2 separate regions of the Homo sapiens genome follow, and region 2 is linked to region 1. The links come from fine-mapping of genetic effects on gene expression. A gene starts in region 1. The other region holds a variant in brackets. All regions are shown on one strand. Distances are between the middles of the regions.

Region 1 (5,383 bases):
CTTTTGCATTCTGTGCTTCCTAATCCCATTTCTGGGGCTTAATTATGATTACACAGCTTTATTATGTAGAATTGATTTTAAGTAATGGCCCTAATTAAGAGTGAATTTTAATTAAGCTTAATTCAGAGCCTGCCTCCGATTGCCAAAGATTTGCAGCCTGAGAAGAGGAAAGGCTGCCCGTGCACAAAACTCACACGTGACTTTGATCTTCATGCTGCTGGACTGTTGCAGCCAGATGGGTTTGTACTATTTTCTGGCCTCAGGGTGCATTTCTTCACCAGGGTGCAGGAGGTATCAGCTCTAGTCCATCTTCCCCTTCCATGCAGAAGCAAACTCGGAGCGCTGGCAATAAACAGAAGTGGGGATCCTGCACCTTTGGGGTGAATATCAACTACACCACCCACCCTGTTGTAGAAAATGAAGCTCATTTGCTTCCTTCCAACTGCTCATGAAACCTGTTCCACAGGTGAGAAAACTAAAGCTCAAGAAGGCCACGGCACACACAGGCAGCGAGGGCAGCAGGAAGATTGGAAATCAGCTCTGCTCCCAATGCCTGTGCCCACTCTGTTCCAACACAGCCTTCCAGTAAGTGGCAATCATCTCTGACTTTGGCAGAAACCAACCTGCTTGAATTTCCTGCCTGCCCACCTAAGCCACTGCTTCCCCAACTTTAGAAGCTCATACGCTGTGAAGGTGGGTCTTTTATGTAAGAGTGAAAAACATCTCAAACCAACTTGTTTTCAAACGAAAATTTTTTCCTACCTTTAAAACTGCTATAAAGCAAAAGTTGTCATAAAAATGTTAAAAAGGAAATAAAACAATGTGATTAAATCCAAATCAGAAACTATTACCTTCTAAAGCCCTAGGAGTAAGGCTTGATCTGCCTGACTTTAAAAAACAGAGATGAGAAGATAGTTCGACCACAACAGCACCAAACTGAGACTTTGTCCCTAACATAATCGGAAAGACCGAAAAAGAGTTGGGAGGACATTGTGTTGCTCCGTGATACAGTGTTATTTAAAGTCGTGTCCAGGTGTCAGCTAAAATCGACTCTCCTTTGTCCAACATTTTCACGGACACTGATCCAAACCAATTTAGCACAGGTTTCCAGGGACCTCTGGGTAATAATGCCCCTCAGCTGCCCTACAGATGACAAGATTCTGGACAGAAACCCAGCTCCCCTAACCCACAGCCCTGGCCCAAGGACAAGATATGGGCATTCCTTTGGTGTTTCAAATAAAAACACAGTGAAATCAATATGTTCTCCAAGACCGGCTGGTGGAGGCTGTTCACCTGCGGAGAAGGGGCCTGGTCATCCGGTTCCTGAATGCCTTTGCCACACTAGAATGTTTTATGGTTCTAAAGTTCCCACCTTAGAAAATCACCCACTAAGAAGCCAAGCTCTGAAAACGTTTTGATTTTTCTAGAGGGAAATGGAAAGTGAAAAATGGAATTCAATTACCTTGAAAAGGGGCAATTTCACTCACAACTGTTACACTTAAAAGCTCCATATGAAACAGGCATTCAAATAAGTCTCAGCCTAAGTTAAAAGAAAAAGGGGAAAAAGAAAATCATGTATTAATCCTCTTCCCTCTACTCCTTCTGACCTAGTGAGTCTTCCTTAGACTCAAAAAAGATAGATGGACTTGAAACACGATTAAATAAGCATGTTAGGACTTTAATAATCCAAGCCGCAGGAGTTTCTATTAAAAGTTGGGTATTTAGAAGAACCATTTGGTTAACCAGTCTAGTGACACAGAAACCACCATGTGAGGGAGGCTCTTCTGAGCAGAGCTGAAGCAGGGACTCCCTGCTTTTCTCTCAGAGATTTGGGGGTAAAGTTACCATCAGACCCTTCAGTTCAGCTGAAAACTCTGAGATGCCCAATACACTCCCATTTTCTACTTCAAGGAAACTTCACTAAAACAGAGGAAAAGATAATAGCCTTGATTGAAATAGAAAGGCGTTACAGAAACTGACACCAAACAACACAACAGACATCATCATCCCATCATAACCATGACGCGCTCATTCTTTCTTTACATCTTCATTCCTGCTAGGTCAAGGCAAGCCGTAGAAGTGGTTTTGTGACCACCATGATGGTTTCCCAAGGCAAATTTAGACAGCATATTTTCTCCTACCACAAAAAACTCCAGCCAGACTCTCCAGTGGTTGAATTCCTATTCCTCAAGTTACCAGCTGTGGAACTCTGTGCCTCAGTTTCCCCATCTGTAAAATGGAGATAACAGTAGCATCTACCTCATAAGATTGCTGTAAATATTAAATGAGATAGTGCTTAGCACAATGCATGGCACATAGCAAGCACTTGGTGGCCGATCAATGGCAAATACGAACACTGGCTCGAGCTTACTGCCATGGTTTATCTTAGCAGCTCCTGACTTGCCTGTTGAGAAAAAATGCTCCTAAACTCAGAAGTATTCAGAAAACCTACAGCAAGGTGGTGAGAGACTAGACTCTTCAAACCTCTGAGGTGCTTTTCTGTCCTCATTCCAGTTTTCTGCCCATCACATTGGCCAAAGAGCTCTAGCCAGAGTTGAAGCCAGTGCTGATCACTTTCCTGACAACCTGGCTGGCAGAGATGGGACCGTATGTAGCACAGGGAAGAGGTGTGTTTTCAGACAGCTTCCTCTCGGAAATCCATTTTGACTGTAGATCCAAAGAAAATCCTTCCAGGCTTCTTGTGCACACGCCAAAACCTGCACACATGTATGCATTTCTTCCTCTCTGTGCATCTCTCCTGCACATCTGGGCAAAAACCAATCTCTGCAGGTAGCATCTTGTGCATATAGCTGTCCGGCCCTATGATAAAATGCATTGTTTCTCTCTGAGTGAAGCTTAATGCACCTCAGCCTGGGGATTTATACTAAGCAATAAAATCCACAGGATAGAGAAATGCAAATAGATTGTAGAATATAATATTATCATTGTCAACATAAAAGACTTTTATTTACTGCCCCCCAAAAGAAAATACACCATAGTGTCGTTTGTTTCAGGGAATGCAAAAAAGGTTTCAACAACTAACAGGGCATGTTTCTGAGCAAAATATACCCCGTATATAATGTTGGAACACATATTGTCAGTGGCCACTCGTGTGTCTGTGTTCTTGCAAACAAACCTGTGGAATTGAGTCATGGAAGGTCACTTCCAGCCACCTCTCTGAGCCACACGGCACCTACCTGGCTCTGTTCACAAACAAACCAGACAATATAGACCTATTTGAAGGGAGAGACCCTCTGAGGCAGGCCACACTCCATCAGCACATCTTAGAATGAGGCATTTGAGTAGTTGCTGACTTGGCTTACTGGGGAATGGAGTTGTGGTGGAGGTTGATTAAACAGATGGTCCATGTTGCTTTGGGCAAAGGGAAAAGTTAAAGAGAAGATGTAGCAGAGCACATGGGAGGTGACAACTCCATCTTTTCTCTAGAAGATATCCCTACAACTCCCCCTTAATGCTCAAGGTCATTCCACCAATGCTTTTGTTGCACAGGGTATTGACAACTTACAAGACCAATTATTTTCACTGATTTGTTTGAATGATAAGTCTGTTGTTTTGTGTAGGGGTTTGGCTATGATATCAGACCCAGTCACAGCAATTGTTTCATTTCTGTCTACAAGGGCAAGATCTAAGTTTATAAGGCTTTAAACAGCCATAATTACCTGAATGACATTTTATGTGAAAAATATATTCTAACTGGTTCTCCCAATAGCCCTAGGAAATATACCCTAGGTGTTATTACGGCCAATTTACAGGTGAGAAAACCGAGACTTCAGAGAGGTGAAGCACATTATCCATGGCCACCCAGCCTGTAGGAGGGTGGCTCCAGAGGCCTCAGTCCTGAGCCCGAGCCTGTCCTGCTTAAGCTTACATCAGGAAAGCCCTTACGTGGCCTGTGCTGGGTGCTCTGTCATGGGGACATCTCACAGGTTTGGTAGGTTTTATCACTCCTATTTTACAGGTGAGGAAACTGATACTTAAAAGAGGAAAAGTGTCTGCCCAAGTCACACAGATGTATATAGCTTGACTGGATTCGAACCTAAGTCCTGACTCCACCGGCTGTGTGGTATAAAAGGAGAGCTTGAAGGTGTCATCATTATCCCCTTTACAGGCCACCACAACCCCTATCACTGAGGGAGTTTTATAAGTTTCAGCAACCACATCAGTAATCTCATTTTGCATCCACAAATTTCTATTTTGTCCTTGCAGCTCACTTGGACAGGGAATGTCCCGCATGTTTGAAAAGATGGTTCAGAAAGGAGCCTTTGGCAATCCCCAGGGTTTCTGCACCCAAGATGGACTGGAGGGATCATGACAACCAGTTGCAATCAAAGAAAAGAGGAAACCATATCCGAGAGTGGAAGCTGTTTTCTTGCTTTCAGGGATCAAATGTCATGACCCCCCAACTCAGTCCTAATGCATCCTCCACAGACATACTCTTGAGCTCTCACAATCCACCCTTCAAGTCATGATGGGGCTCAAGACCTTCACTGGGCTTCATTATCACAGAGCAAACAGGGTGAAGAGGACTCATTTATTGAAGCAACAGATATTGGTGACCAATGAAATTGATGACCACCATGACCTAGGCTGGGCATTCAGTGGAGAGTAACACAGGCAACTTCCCTGACATCTGGGGCTTACAGATAATGGAGGAAACACAAAAGAATCAGATAAACAGATAGGCCAGACCAGAGAGTGCTAAGCAGACATTAAAACAAGGAAGTCAACATCAAATGCAGAGCCCAGAGAAGCCTTCCTTGGAGAGGTGACACTGAGCTGAGGCCCGACTTGCCCTGGAAAGACCTTGGGACACATTCCAGGAGGGAGGGTGCTGAGCCCTGGAGAGCTCTGTTTTGGGCAGTCACTCTCATCAGAGTTTCCATGATGACACAAAGGTCACATGGATGCCCACAGTCTAATTTCAATCAACAATGAATCATGGCCACTCTGGGCACACCAGCACCCCACTCCCCAAACCTCCACCACACCCACCACACCTACAAGGGCCGTTTGTTTGACCAACAGAGAAAAGATTATTCCAAAATACACTTGGTAAAAACATCCATGGGGAGGGTGAAGTTTCTGGTTTCCCCTTTAAAGAGCTATCATCTTTGGATGTTCAGAGCTTCTCACATGATAGCACCTCCTGTAAGGGTTTTGCCCCTGTAGTTAATGTTCAGAAAGTGTGTATTTCCCTTTTGAGAATTCTGTATGAAAGGGACACTGATAAGGGAAATGGAGGCCTTATTGCTAAGAAGCTAGTCAGCATTTGCAAGAGGAAGGGGAACTAGCATTGACTGCACACTTCCATGCACCAGCGTTGAGCTGGATGCCTTACCTGGTTTATCTCCTTCAATCCCAG
Region 2 (5,383 bases), 39 kb after region 1:
TCTGTGACTTAAAGCTTCTTCATTTTAAACAGATTCATATAGTAGGATTAGACCTTATAGGTCATGATGTTTAGTCGCTCACCTCACAGACATATTCAGTTATTTTATCCCAAGAAAATTTCTGTGATTGAATATTTCTAGGGATAATCTATCCCTGACCAAACATTTCTTATGCTGGGGAACTTCCTGTCTCACTAGTCAATCCATTCTATTTTAAACAATTCCTTCTCACCAGCTAGCTGAAATCTGTTCCCCTATTGCTTTCACCTAAGAGTCCTATTTCTAACCATGAAAACTACACTGAATATGTAGTTATTCTTTTTAAAACAACTCTTGGGTATTTAAAGATAACCTGTGTCAGTTATGAGGCCTACATCTATAAGTAACAAAAAAACCAACTTAACTTATACAATAAGGAAAAACAAGAAGATCCAAGGTAGCAGAGCCCTAAAGTTAATTCAGAGGTTTAAAGATTTTGTCAGGGACCAGGCTCTTTCCATCTTTCTGCTCTGTCATGTTCACTCTCTTTATTACCCCTCATGATCATTACCTTCAGAGGTGCTCATATATAGACAGTCTCTTTTTATAAGTCTCCTCCCAGATCCCTCCAGCACAGTTCCCTTTCATTGGCCAGATTTGCATCACATGCTGATGCTTACAGCAGCCACAGCTAAGGGGACTGGGACTGCCAAGACCAGTTTGGACCACTCAGAACTTACTACAGGAGCTGGGGAAAGGAACACCTCAAACAAAATCAAGCTGTGACTCCAAGAAGAAGAGGGCATGGCCGTTCGTTAGGCACCAAATAATGAGTGCCTAATATGCTTTTTCCATGTGTTCTCCCTAGGACAGCATTTCCTGGACTTTGATCTGTGAACCCTGCTGTTTCAAGCAATGTTAATAGATGGTGTACAGTAGAACAGAGTCAATGTTCTTATGGCCAAATAAGTTTGGAAAGTGCTTTATGCTACATATTTCACAAATTTACAGTACATATTAAGAAATCTGACTACCTTTAATTCATCATTTCTCAAAACCAGCTTCAACACCACAGTGAAGATTCTCCTTCTAAAATGCGAATCTGCAGAAAACCCTCATTGGCTCACCATTGTCCTCAGGATAAAGTCTAAACATCTTAGAATGGACTATATGACCTGCTCAGATCATTCCCCTCCTTTCCCCTCTAGTCTCTTACTCTGTTCTTACTGCATGTTCTATGCTCCAGCTGTACTGAACTATTTGCATATCTCCACAAGTGCTTTTCTGTATCTGTTTCAACACATACTTGTCTGTCTGAAATCCCATTGCTATACCCTACCTCCAACACACCAGGTTAACTGCTAGTAGTCAAGGTCTCTTACAATGGAAAACTTTTTTTGAGCCAGCATGTTATCCTTTCTGCCTTTTGCTATCACCTGTTATACTATTTTATAATTGCATATTTCCTTACTTTTCTTATCCCTGCTCAACTGTAAGCTCCTTATGGGTATTTCTAGTACTTAACACGGTGCCTTGATTGATTCGATTCTTAAAAAATTTTTATTAAATGAATAAATGGTTCTGGATGCTTGAACTCATTTAAAACAGTTAAGAAGCTTTAGATTCCCCCCAAACTTGATTATCTAATTGTTCTAGTTTGGAGAATATTCTTTCATAAAATAAAATGTAATAACTATGTGATAGATGTTTTCTTGAGACATTGTATGGGTAGGTCAGGCAGTTAGACTCTGAGGGACCTGTAGAGCTACGCTAGGAAGGTAGACTTCTGGTAAATGTAGAGGATTAAATGAACACTCTGTGCACCCTCACTTCCTCCCCTAAATAGTAATGTCAGCAGCCAACCTTTACAGAATTTACCATAATCCAGGACTCTTCTAAGAGCTCTGCATAAATGAACTCTCTTCATCATAATCCTATGAGGTAGGAACTATTGCCATTGGCATTTACAGATGTGTAAATAGAGAGATTTAACTTTTTCAAGGTCAAGCAACTAGTCAGTGGTACACCTGAGATTTAAATTTAAGTGATTTTTAAAGAGACAAAAATCCACAAGTAAAGAGATTCCAAGAAGAGATAACAAAACAAAAGGCAAATGGAGAAGCAAATAGACAAGTCTGAACCCCAAAGCCCAAAAATCTGAACCCTAAGCTGGCTGGGTAAAGCCAAAAATAGCCCCTACGACTCAATTCATGGTGGCACCAGGATCTTCTGGAAGTAGGGGTGAAATTTGGATAATAGGAAGACTAGTTAAATATATAAGAATTGTAGATCCCTGAGGTCTCTTCTGCCCTCTGCATAGCTGGGCAGCTATCCCTTCACTGTGACAAAAGACTTGAGGTTAAAACAAGGATATTTGCCCTGGAACCACTAGTCATAGGTTGAGGGAAAGTAGTATACTGTAAAGAAGGACACTGAAACAAAGTTTACTTAC[A/C]AAATTACAAGACCCCCAGTTTTTTTTCCTTCACTGGGCTACCAAAATACTGGCAGCCAGATTTATACCCACCAAGTAGATTTTTCTCTCAGGAATCTGACCAGCCTAAGATAAAAGATCTAAAGATACTAATAGCAGAGGTTCTCCCAACAAAATAACCCAGCCAGAACACCCCACATTATTGAGTACCACAGGTGCAGAACTTCCAATTGTCTTTTTAGTGTCACAGTCTTAAATATGGGCAACTAAGGCACAACAGATACTTGAGGGACAAATCTAATATTAAAAAGCAGAGAAAAAATCAACAGATTCAATGAGGAAGAAACAAATAATGAGGGGAGATGAAAATTTCAAGAAATTATTAATATTCAGAGAGAAGAGAAGATACTGTATCCATGAAAAAGGAACTACATACTATAAAAAATATTCAGAGAACAAGAAGGAGCTCTTGGAAATTAAAAATGTGACCATAGACATGAAAAACTCGATAGAAGGGTTGAAAGGTAAAATGAAGAAATTCCTCTAGAGTGTAAACAAAACAAAAGAGATGGAAAGTGTTGGTGATGGGGAGGAAAAGGATTAGGTAAGTGAAGGAAGTCCAACATCCAACAAATAAGAGTGTTAGAAAGAGAGAACATACACAAGGAATGAAGGGCAATTCATTAAAGAAATAAAGAAAACTTCCTAGAGTTGAAGGGCATTTGTTTCTACAATGAAAGAGTCCACCACAGTGCATGAAAATAGGCTCATACCAAGGCAGAATGTTGTGAAATTTCAGTCTACTGAGAGAACAAAAAGATCTGTAAAGCTTCTGAAAACAAAACAATCATATGAAAGTTCTCATATGACTCCAGCTTCACTGGAACCTAGAAGACAATGCAGCAGTGCCTTTGGAAATCTGAAAAAAATATGATTTCCAACCTAGATTTCTATAGCTAGTCAACCTAATTAAGGATTAGTGTAGATAAATTTTCAGACATATAATTTTATTCCCTCTGGAAGTTACTGAGCCTATATGTCACCAAACAAGGGAACAGATCAAAAAGAGAGACACAGGAATCTGGGGAAAAGGGCACTCCACAGAATGGAGGGATAAAAGGAGTCTCTAGGATATTAGTGAAGGGAGTTCCCAAGATACCAGCTGTACAGCAGTGCTAGTAAGCAATCAGTTCAGATTGGAGCAAATCAGAAGGCTCCAGGAGAGGAGAGACGTTTAACAATAGAATAGCTAAGGTGTTGAATAACCCAAGAGCAAATTTACTCAATTGGGGGACATTTAGGATATATTTCTGATAATGCAGCAATGCAAAAACCCAATTATTACCTCTGGTGGGTTGCGTGCAGGAAGGAAAATGTCATATGACAAGACTCAGCTATGAAGAATATTTGTATAATTAACATTTAAACATTAGATAATTGAGCTAAGCAAAAATTTTTCCTGAAGTATATTGGGAGAGAAGAGGGTGTGTGAAAGAGCTGTATCTTAATCTTCTGTGTCAGAGGCAGGTAACACTGAAAATTGAAAAAAAAAAAATCAAATCTCAAAAAATTTAAAGTTACAGAGGTAAACACCACCCCACCACTCCCCACAATAAAAATACTCAAAACAGACACACTGAAATGACCAAAGCAACAAAAACAAAGTGAGCTATAAAAAAAAAAAATTAAAATGGTTGCCTCTGGGAGATTGGAACTGCAGTTTTTTTGTAACATGCCTTAGACTTATCTGATTCTTGGTACTATATGCATGTATAACATAGATAAAAATAAGTTAAAACCATATAAATCAAATTTGTATAAATCAAGTTGCAGTTTAGTGATATAGCCGAGAAGTTGGGCTAAAGAGCACCCTTTTAGTAAGTTTTTATGTCATGCTTATTTTGTAATAACATAAATCTTATTTTTTTTTTAATTATACTTTAAGTTTTAGGGTACATGTGCACATTGTGCAGGTTAGTTACATATGTATACATGTGCCATGCTGGTGCGCTGCACCCACTAACTCGTCATCTAGCATTATGTGTATCTCCCAATGCTATCCCTCCCCCGTCCCCCCACCCCACCACAGTTCCCAGAGTGTGATATTCCCCTTCCTGTGTCCATGTGATCTCATTGTTCAATTCCCACCTATAAGTGAGAATATGCGGTGTTTGGTTTTTTGTTCTTGCGATAGTTTACTGAGAATGATGATTTCCAATTTCATCCATGTCCCTACAAAGGACATGAACTCATCATTTTTTATGGCTGCATAGTATTCCATGGTGTATATGTGCCACATTTTCTTAATCCAGTCTATCACTGTTGGACATTTGGGTTGGTTCCAAGTCTTTGCTATTGTGAATAATGCCGCAGTAAACATACGTGTGCATGTGTCTTTATAGCAGCATGATTTATAGTCCTTTGGGTATATACCCAGTAATGGGATGGCTGGGTCAAATGGTATTTCTAGTTCTAGATCCCTGAGGAATCGCCACACTGACTTCCACAATGGTTGAACTAGTTTACAGTCCCACCAACAGTGTAAAAGTGTTCCTATTTCTCCACATCCTCTCCAGCACCTGTTGTTTCCTGACTTTTTAATGATTGCCTTTCTAACTGGTGTGAGATGGTATCTCATTGTGGTTTTGATTTGCATTTCTCTGATGGCCAGTGATGATGAGCATTTTTTCATGTGTTTTTGGCTGCATAAATGTCTTCTTTTGAGAAGTGTCTGTTCATGTCCTTCGCCCACTTTTTGATGGGGTTGTTTGTTTTTTTCTTGTAAATTTGTTTGAGTTCACTGTAGATTCTGGATATTAGCCCTTTGTCAGATGAGTAGGTTGTGAAAATTTTCTCCCATTTTGTAGGTTGCCTGTTCACTCTGATGGTAGTTTCTTTTGCTGTGCAGAAGCTCTTTAGTTTAATTAGATCCCATTTGTCAATTTTGTCTTTTGTTGCCATTGCTTTTGGTGT

What was found. PIP is the estimated chance that this variant, and not a neighbour inherited with it, causes the effect.
Region 2: its variant is fine-mapped to the expression of LINC01187 in whole blood (TOPMed, PIP 0.90).

The regions. Positions count from the first base shown.
Region 1 is chr5:170,196,290-170,201,672 of GRCh38, forward strand. LINC01187 (long intergenic non-protein coding RNA 1187) reads right to left here and starts at 2,852. Exons shown (of 5, transcript NR_108022.1): 1 at 2,453-2,852; 2 at 1,463-1,540; 3 at 195-342.
Region 2 is chr5:170,235,446-170,240,828 of GRCh38, forward strand. The region is part of intron 3 of C5orf58 (chromosome 5 open reading frame 58); the gene reads left to right. Among named protein-coding and RNA genes, the nearest start is that of C5orf58, 5.2 kb to the left of the region's middle. The variant A/C (reference allele first, on the strand shown) is at 2,432.